2 separate regions of the Homo sapiens genome follow, and region 1 is linked to region 2. Evidence: fine-mapped expression QTL. Tissue or cell type: whole blood. Region 2 holds a variant in brackets; the other region holds the start of a gene. Each region is shown on its reference strand, or each on the opposite one. Region 1 holds the start of FKBP8 (FKBP prolyl isomerase 8). Region 2 holds the start of LOC107985033 (a long non-coding RNA gene).

What was found.
Region 1: FKBP8 starts here. The variant in region 2 is fine-mapped to the expression of FKBP8 in whole blood (TOPMed, PIP 0.93).

The regions. Positions count from the first base shown.
Region 1 is chr19:18,541,589-18,545,981 of GRCh38, forward strand. It overlaps FKBP8 (FKBP prolyl isomerase 8), which reads right to left and starts at 1,985. Exons shown (of 9, transcript NM_012181.5): 1 at 1,898-1,985; 2 at 91-407. The coding sequence starts at 382. RefSeq lists an enhancer at 1-238 and a silencer at 1,801-2,230.
Region 2 is chr17:35,550,542-35,554,934 of GRCh38, forward strand. SLFN14 (schlafen family member 14) reads right to left here. Exons shown (of 6, transcript NM_001129820.2): 4 at 4,035-4,163; 5 at 2,189-2,903. It overlaps LOC107985033 (a long non-coding RNA gene), which reads left to right and starts at 2,664. Exons shown (of 2, transcript NR_138032.1): 1 at 2,664-2,950; 2 at 4,057-4,393. The variant C/G (reference allele first, on the strand shown) is at 2,443.

The DNA.
Region 1 (4,393 bases), not on the chromosome of region 2:
TTCCAACCCTCACAGCACAGATGGGGAAATGAGGCTCAGGGGACGAGAGGGCCAGGGCCAAGGGCACCCTGATCCACCTTTGCTCCTTACCCAGAATGTCCAGCCACTCTTCTGGGGCCGGGGCTGGGGCGGGCTCGGGCTCCATGGCAGCAAGGAACTCTCGGGCCAGGGCCCCAGGCTGCTCAGCCTCCTCCGCCGGGGGTTGTCCCATGTCCTCCAGCGGTGGCAGCTCACTCAGGTCATCCTCTTCCTCCTCTTCCTCCTCCTCTTCCTCCTCACCCTCTGCATCCTCAACCCCATCCAGTACCTCGAAGTCCTCGAGCGGTGGGACCCCGGCGGGCAGTGGGGCAGAGGGCTCAGAGGGTTCAGCACACGATGCCATGCTGCTGGGGGGACAGGAATTGGCCCTGGAAGTGGGGGGCAGAGATGTGGGTCAGAATCCTACACAGCCCCTCAAAGTCTCCACTGTACTGATTCCCCACACTGCCGATCACTTTCTGTGTAACTCAAGGGCTCCAGGCCTCAGTTTCCTCATCTATACAGTGGGTGTAACAACAACCCCAGCTTGTTGGGAGAAATTAACCCATGCATCAAGCCCTTGGCATCAGGCTCAAATAGTGTTAGCCATTATTAGAGCTAATTATTATTTAATGTTTACAAATACTCCAGGAAGTAGGGAAGATTCCCCTCAACATTTTGCAGAACAGGAAACAGGCCAGAGGGGCAAAGGCATTTGCCCAAGGTCACAGAGAAAGCCAAAGGCCAAAGGAGGATTTGAACCTGGGGCTTCAGGCCCTGTGGCTTTGCCTGATTATAAGCTGAGCGAAGGGTGCTGGGATTTTTGTGGAGAGGACAGCCTCCGAGGCCTTAGGGAAGCCATTTTTAGAGCCTCTAAGGCCACTGGGGGAAATTGAATCTTTTACCAGGGCCTCCCACCTCCAGCCTCTTCTCCAAAGGGGAGACCCTCCCCAAAAGCACCAACTGTAATCACCCAGAAACCCCAAGCGTTTTTTCCTTCCACACTCTGAATCTAACACTATCCCCCACAACCCCAACATCAGGGACCCTGGCCCAAATCCTTCCCCAGGAGACCATCCTCCTCTCATCAGGCCTCGGTCCCACCCCCTCAAAGCAGCCTCCTTTCCAGGAGTGGTCGAGGTCCCACCACATTCTACAGCCTCTTCCTTGCCCCAGACCTCCTGAACCAATAACCAACCCCTCCGTCCCCCAGGCCCCAAGCTCAGAAGAGTGTGGCACAGCCATCAAACCAGCCCGCCGCATCCCCTCCCTAACCCTCACCTGCCTGCTCCTCCCGGGCTCGGAGCCCCACTTTGAGAGACCCTCCCAGCCCCCACCCCCATAATTCCCCGCGCCCGCACAATTCGGCCTCCCCTCCCACCCCCCACCCCAACCACCACCGCCCCCAGCACGGGCCAGCTCCCCCCACAGCCGCTCCGTCTCGCCGTAAACACTCCAGTGTCCCCAGACGCCCCCCCCTTTCCGATCCCATAACACCCCACGCTCTCCTGACGCCCCACAGCCCCGGCCGGGCCCTCAGTCAAGCCGCGACCCAGGCCCCCAACGACCCACGCCTGTCTGACGCCACCAGTCTGGGGCACCCGACCCCCGCACGCCTCGGGCGCCCCTGGCCCTGCACGCCTCCATCGGGACCCCCCCACTGGATCCCCTTTGCCCCCAGTGACCCCCATCCCTGGCCACCCCCGCCCGGCCGCGCCCCCTCGGGCACCCCCGACCCCCGTGCCCCCCCGGCTCGCCACCCCCGCGGCCCCTCGCCCCGCCCATCGGCCGCAGCCCCCGGCGCGCTAGCCCCCGGACCAGCCTAGGCCAGGGCAGCGGCCCGGCCGGCACGGCGCCCCCAGCACCCCAGGACACTTGCCTCTGGCTCCGGGACCCCCACTTGGGGTCCTGCGCCCCCCTCCCCGCCCCCAGCCGCGGCCGCCGCGCCTCGGGAACCAGGTTCGGCCGCTTGGCCCCGCCCCTGCCGTGCCCATTGGCCGCCGCTGCCGCGACTGCCGCACCCGTTGGCTCATGCAGACGTCCGTCCCGGGCGTTGGCACCTCCCCCTTCCTGCTTGGCCCCGCGGGGCGTTCTTAAAGGGACCGAAGCCTCCCGGCTGCTGGGGCTGGGGCGGGGGCTGGGGCGGGGGCTGGGGCGGGGGCTGGGGCGGGGGCGGGGGACCCTGGGCTGGACCCCAACACGGGTCAGTATCGCGCAGCCTGTGCGACTCCTGCCTCTCCTCTGAGCTTCATCCTGACCATCTGCGAAATGGGGATAAACACCCCCATCTATGCACTCTCACCTTGGGGGCTGCTGGGGGCACAGTCCACTCTAAATGTTATTTCCTTAAAGAGTTCAAGCTTGACGGGCAGGGCAGCTCTGGGGTTGCTGAATGACCCATCCTGAAGCCTTAGTTACAGAAGTGAACCTGAGGGCCTGAGGAGGAGTGACGTGCCCAAAGGCATACAGAAACCTCCCTCCCATCCCCCACACAGTTTAATGTCTAGAAGGTTGCCTGGTGCATACTGGAGGCGCTCGATTACTGCTGCGCAGGCGACTGAGCCAGCAGGGCCACTGGGAGGAGTTCCTCCTCTATGCACTGTCTGCTGGAGGGTGATAAGGTCCCCATGGCTCGGGAAGAAGGTGGCATCCTTGATTAGCTAAGTTTTTGTGGATCTTGTTTTGAAACCGGGACACTTCTCCCTCCTTCACTCAGTTTTATTTCCTTCCTAGCAGTTACTCCTTCCAGAATTATCTTGTCATTATTTTGCTTGTGGTTGGAGGGACCATCCCTCACTCTGCTTCATCCTGGCAGAGATTTTTACCTGATTTGTACCCAGCACCTCCTTGAACCATGCCTGGCATCTATAGAAGCTCAATAAATGGGTAGGTGGATGGATGGATGGATGGATGGATGGATGGATGGATGGATGAGTCAGACACCAGCTTTTGGAGGTAGCTATCATGGAGGTGGTAACTGGCTTTTTGGAGATCACTTCTAAGGTTGGAGTTCCCAGGTTACCTCCTACAGGAAGCCCTCCCAACCTCCCCAAGGCAAGACCAGGTGCCCCCTTTAGCTGTCTTGGCACAATGAAGTTGATGAACGTCCACTTCATAACTAGTTTACTTGGGTTTTTTGTTTGTTTGTTTGTTTTTGTTTTTTGAGAAGAAGTTTCACTCTTGTTGCCCAAGCTGGAGTGCAATGGCGCAATCTCAGCTCACCGCAACCGCTGCCTCCCAGGTTCAAGCGATTCTCCTGCCTCAGCCTTCCAAGTAGCTGGGAGTAGAGGCATGCACCACCATGCCTGGCTAACTTTGTATTTTTAGTAGACACGGGATTTCTTCATGTTGGTCAGGCTGGTCTCAAACTCCCGACCTCACGTGATCCGCCCACCTCGATGTACCAAAGATTACAGGCATGAGCCATCGTGCCTGGCCTTTTTTTTTTTTTTCTTTCTCTTTTTTTTTTGAGACAGAGTCTCTCTCTGTCGCCAGGCTGGAGTGCAGTGGCGCGATCTCGGCTCACTGCAACATCCACCTCCTAAGTTCCAACGATTCTCCTGCTTCAGCCTCCTGAGTAGCTGGGACTACAGGCACCCGCCACCATGCCCAGCTAATTTGTATATTTTTAGTAGAGACAGGGTTTCACCATGTTGGCCAGGATGGTCTGGAACTCCTGACCTCATGATCTGCCTGCCTCGGCTTCCCAAACTAGTTTACTTATATCTCTGCCTTTTTTTTTTTGAGATAGGGTCTTACTTTGAAACCCAGGCTGGAGTGCAGTGGCACGATCTCAGATCACTGCAACCATGTCTATCTCCTGGGCTCACGCAATCCTCCTGCCTCAGCCTCCTGAGTAGCTGGGCCCACAGGTGCACCATCATGTCCAGCTAATTTTTTTTTTTTTTTTTGAGACAGAGTCTCGCTGTGTAGCCCAGGCTAGAGTGCAGTGGCGCAATCTCGGCTCACTGCAAGCTCCGCCTCCCAGGTTCACACCATTCTCCTGCCTCAGCCTCCCAAGTAGCTGGGACTACAGGCGCCTGCCACCATGCCCGACTAATTTTTTGTATTTTTAGTAGAGTCAGCGTTTCATCGTGTTAGCCAGGATAGTCTCGATCTCCTGACCTTGTGATCTGCCCACCTCGGCCTCCCAAAGTGCTGAAATTACAGGCGTGAGCCATCGCGCCCGGCCCAATGTTTATATTTTTTGTAGAGATGGGGTTTCCCCATGTTGCCCAGGCTGGTCTCGAACTCCTGGGCTCAAGCAATCCTCCCACTTTGGCCTCCCAAACTGTTGGGATTATAGGCGTGAGCCACTGCTTTGATTTACCTCTGCCTTGCCCTCTACACTGGCAGAGCCCCAAAGTCTGGGAAG
Region 2 (4,393 bases):
TCTCAAAAATAAATTAATTAATTAGTTAATTAAAATGAGCATGTCTTTATTATTATACAATACTCACATTGTTTTTTTTATGGCAAGGTCTTCAATATGTTTTCTCCTCTAACACTAAATGTAGCACAGTAGATACCACATCAACAGTGCTCAAAAAGATTTATTGAATAACAAAACCAAGCCAAAAATCATAATGATTTTGCCCTCTTTTGCTGAATTCTATAATGACCAATTCATTTTACTAAATTAAAAGTTAGAGATTTAAATCAGAAGTGAATTTGCATATTTTCTAAAATTACTGATGCAGAACAAGTCAAAAATGAAAATATTTTATGAACAAAATCAAACTGTATTTAAATTCAAGTTTCACTAGGTACAATGTCTAATTAGCAGAAATACCCTATGACTTTAAAACATTACATATCAAACAGAAAGTATACTTAAAGCAGAATGGGTTCATTTCTACTTCTCTTAAATGTAAGGCCATGGATTGTGAGAAAAAAAAAAGTTTCTGGTTCTGTAAATGTAAGTTATGCACATGTGGGTTATTTATAATGAGATGTTTAAGGTTGAACATTATAAATTACCTGTTTACAGCTCAATTCCATGATTATTTGGAAATGTGTATATAGTTTGGGCTCTTGCACTTATGCAACTAAGGCACTGCAAAAACTTAAACTAAAAACACAAATCACTTTTGTGACACTCTTGAAAAGACTGACTAAATATATTTTTGTGTGTGTGTGCAACCAACTCCCAGCACATCAGGTGGGTAACTCTTCCCACACGAATAGTCTGCCTACCCTCAGGAATATTTTTTGTCTGTGGTACCTCAGCCTATCGTTGTTTGAATGGCTCTTCAGAATCTATATGCTTCCTCTCATTCTTAGCGCCCCCTATGACCATCTACACTGAACAAGATTTATACAATCATGTCGTACCTAAGCCCCGCAACAAAAGGGTACCCATTCTTCCTTTTGTTATCGGAGCAGGAGTGCTAGGTGGAGTAGGTACTGGCACTGGCGGTATCACAACCTCTATTCAGTTCTACTACAAACTATCTCAAGAACTAAATGGTGACATGGAACGGGTCTCTGACTCCCTGGTCACCTTGCAAGATCAACTTAACTCCCTAGCAGCAGTAGTCGTTCAAAATAGAAGAGCTTTAGACTTGCTAGCCGCCGAAAGAGGGGGAACCTGTTTATTTTTAGGGGAAGAATGCTGTTATTATGTTAATCAATCCGGAATCGTCACCAAAAAGTTAAAGAAATTCGAGATCGAATACAACGTAGAGCAGAGGAGCTTCAAAACACTGGCCCCTGGGGCCTCCTCAGCCAATGGATGCCCCGGATTCTCCCCTTCTTAGGACCTCTAGCAGCTATAATATTGTTACTCCTCTTTGGACCCTGTATCTTTAACCTCCTTGTTAATTGGACCCTGTATCTTTAACCTCCTTGTTAAGTTTGTCTCTTCCAGAATCGAAGCTGCAAAGCTACAAATGGTTCTTCAAATGGAGCCCCAGATGCAATCCATGAGTAAAATCTACCACGGACCCCTGGACCGGCCTGCTAGCCCATGCTCCAATGTTAATGACATCAAAGGCACCCCTCCCGAGGAAATCTCAACTGCAGAACCCCTACTACGCCCCAATTCAGCAGGAAGCAGTTAGAGCGGTGGTCGGCCAACTTCCCCAATAGCACTTGGGTTTTCCTGTTGAGGGGGGCACTGAGAGACAGGACTAGCTGGATTTCCTAGGCTGACTAAAAATCCCTAAGCCTAGCTGGGAAGGTGACCACTTCCACCTTTAAACATGGGGCTTGCAACTTAGCTCACACCCGACCAATCAGATAAGAAAGAGAGCTCACTAAAATGCTAATTAGGCAAAAACAAGAGGTAAAGAAATAGCCAATCATCTATTGCCTGAGAGCACAGCAGGAGGGACAATGATCGGGATATAAACCCAGGCATTCAAGCTGGCAACGGCTACCCTCTTTGGGTCCCCTCCCTTTGTATGGGAGCTCTGTTTTCACTCTATTAAATCTTGCAACTGCAAAAAGAATATATATATATGTGTATATATATACACATATATATACATATATATATACACATATATATACACATATATATACACATATATATATACACATACATATTTTTGTGTGTGTGTAGTTGGTAAAACTCTTACGTCACAAAATCCTTTAGGGAGTCGCTTTCACAAACATAGAGGATCTCTTTTGGTTTGCAGTGAAACAAGTCCTTAATTTTCTCCATGATCTTTATGGCTAGGGCTGTCTTCCTGACTCCTGGAAAGCAGTAGATGAATAATTCACGTGTCTTCTGAAGACTCTCAGAAAGCAACTGGCTCTGCTCCATTATGAGCAAGTTGAAAAATTCACAGCCCATCTGGTCACTCAGAAGAGATCTGGAGGACAGGGAGAC[C/G]ACCACCAGAGCCTGCAGCAAGTCTTCCATTTCCTCCTCATCAGCAAGCCTGTAGGACCTGGGGTAACGCAGGGGGATCTCACCAGGTCTACTCTGTGTGCTGCTCAGGTGTATCAGCCTTGGAATGATGCACACTTTCCCTGTGTAACCACCAACAGTTTGCAGTTTCTGCTTTAACTGATGAGCTGTGTTTCGGGCATATTCAAGTCCTCCAGGCCAATTGGGGTCTATTAAGATTGTATAGAGTACCACGGGGCTGTTAACTGCTATCAGGAGAGCATCACACAGGACATTCTGTTCTTTCCTGAAGCCAACATCACCAGCCCAGCTTCTAGAAAATATCACAATCCCCTGAGAACAAGGATGTATCAGGGTCTTCATTAAACCCTCCAGTTCTTTATGATCTGAGAACAGCTTCTTACAGAGGGATTCTGGTTTAAATTGTACCTCTTCCTGTGTCACTGAAAATTCAAGGAATAGATGTTACCAAAACTTACAAAAGCATGTGGTAAGTATTCCTGCAACGTTGCAGAAAAAAATGATACCTGGTGCATTTGGGAAAATAAGAGCTTTCCTTTAGAATTGTGATTCTTAATCAGGAGCAGTTTTACTCCCCAACTCTCCCCCATCCCCACGGACATTTGGCAATGTCTGGAAAATTTTTTCTTTTTTTGTGAGACGGAGTCTCGCTGTCACCCAGACTGGAGTGCAGTGGTGTGATCTTGGCTCACTGCAGCCTCTGCCTCCCTGGTTCCAGTGATTCTTCTGCCTCAGCCTCTGGAGTAGCTGAGATTACAGTCACATGCCACCACACCTGGCTAATTTTTGTATTTTTAGTAGAGACAGCGTTTCACCATGTTGGCTAGGCTGGTCTCAAACTCCTGACCTCAGTTGAGGTCACCCGCCTTGGCCTCCCAAAGTGCTGGGATTACAGGCATGAGCCACCATGCCCGGCCTGAGAATTTTTTATTGTCACAATTGGAGGGGAGCTACTGGTATGTAGTAGGTACCAGATAGGAATGCTGCTAAGTATTCTACAATTCACAGGGCTCTCCCTCCCCCAGCAAAGAGTTATCTGACTCAAATGACAATAGTGCTAAGGTTGAGAAACCCTGCTTTAGAAGAAGTTCAGATAACCCAATGGCTCCTTCTGCATTGGAAAGCTAGGGGCAGTTTTTTGATGGTTGAGACCTGAGAAATTCCCTGCACTCTCAAATTTGGAAAACAAAAGCCATATGTTATGAGAAGTTGGAAGGCACACAGAAATAGTAATAGTGGGAATCAGATGACTGGAAACAAGGGTCAGATATATAGATATATAAATATTATATATAATTATATATAATAATTATATAATAAATTAATAATAAATATTAATAATTATTTTAAATAAGTATATATATGACCCTTGTTTTCAGTCATATATATATTATATATATAATATATATATTTCAAATTTCAGGATCATTATGTCGCTAAGTCCTTCATTTGACCTTCCCTAAGGAGAAACACCTGAACTCATTACTACTAACACCTCCCAACTCAATTTTAGAAAACAAATAGTCCCCTAAGTTGAAATCAAGAGGGAATACCTGGAAACAAATGTCGTTGCAGAGCCTCCTTAAATTTGTGGACTTTTATGGGATATCCGGGACTTTTTCGTGCAGATGAAGCTGATGAAATCAGGCAAGAGTTGTAGTCTGTGACCAAACTGGGAGGAGCTAGACAATTACATGGAAAGTTGTTTCAGACAAAAAATAAAAAGTTAAAAAAAAAAAAAAAAAAGCCTCTTTTTTTGGCTCTTCTTACTGGAGACCTGTGATGTGCATGGGTGCCTGAGCAGTCGTACTTACTATGCGTCAGACAGCTCACGTATGTCAGGAAAGGAAGTCTGGGGATTCCTACAGGGGACATATCACACATATTCTAAGTCACTGTGTGACTCGGCTTG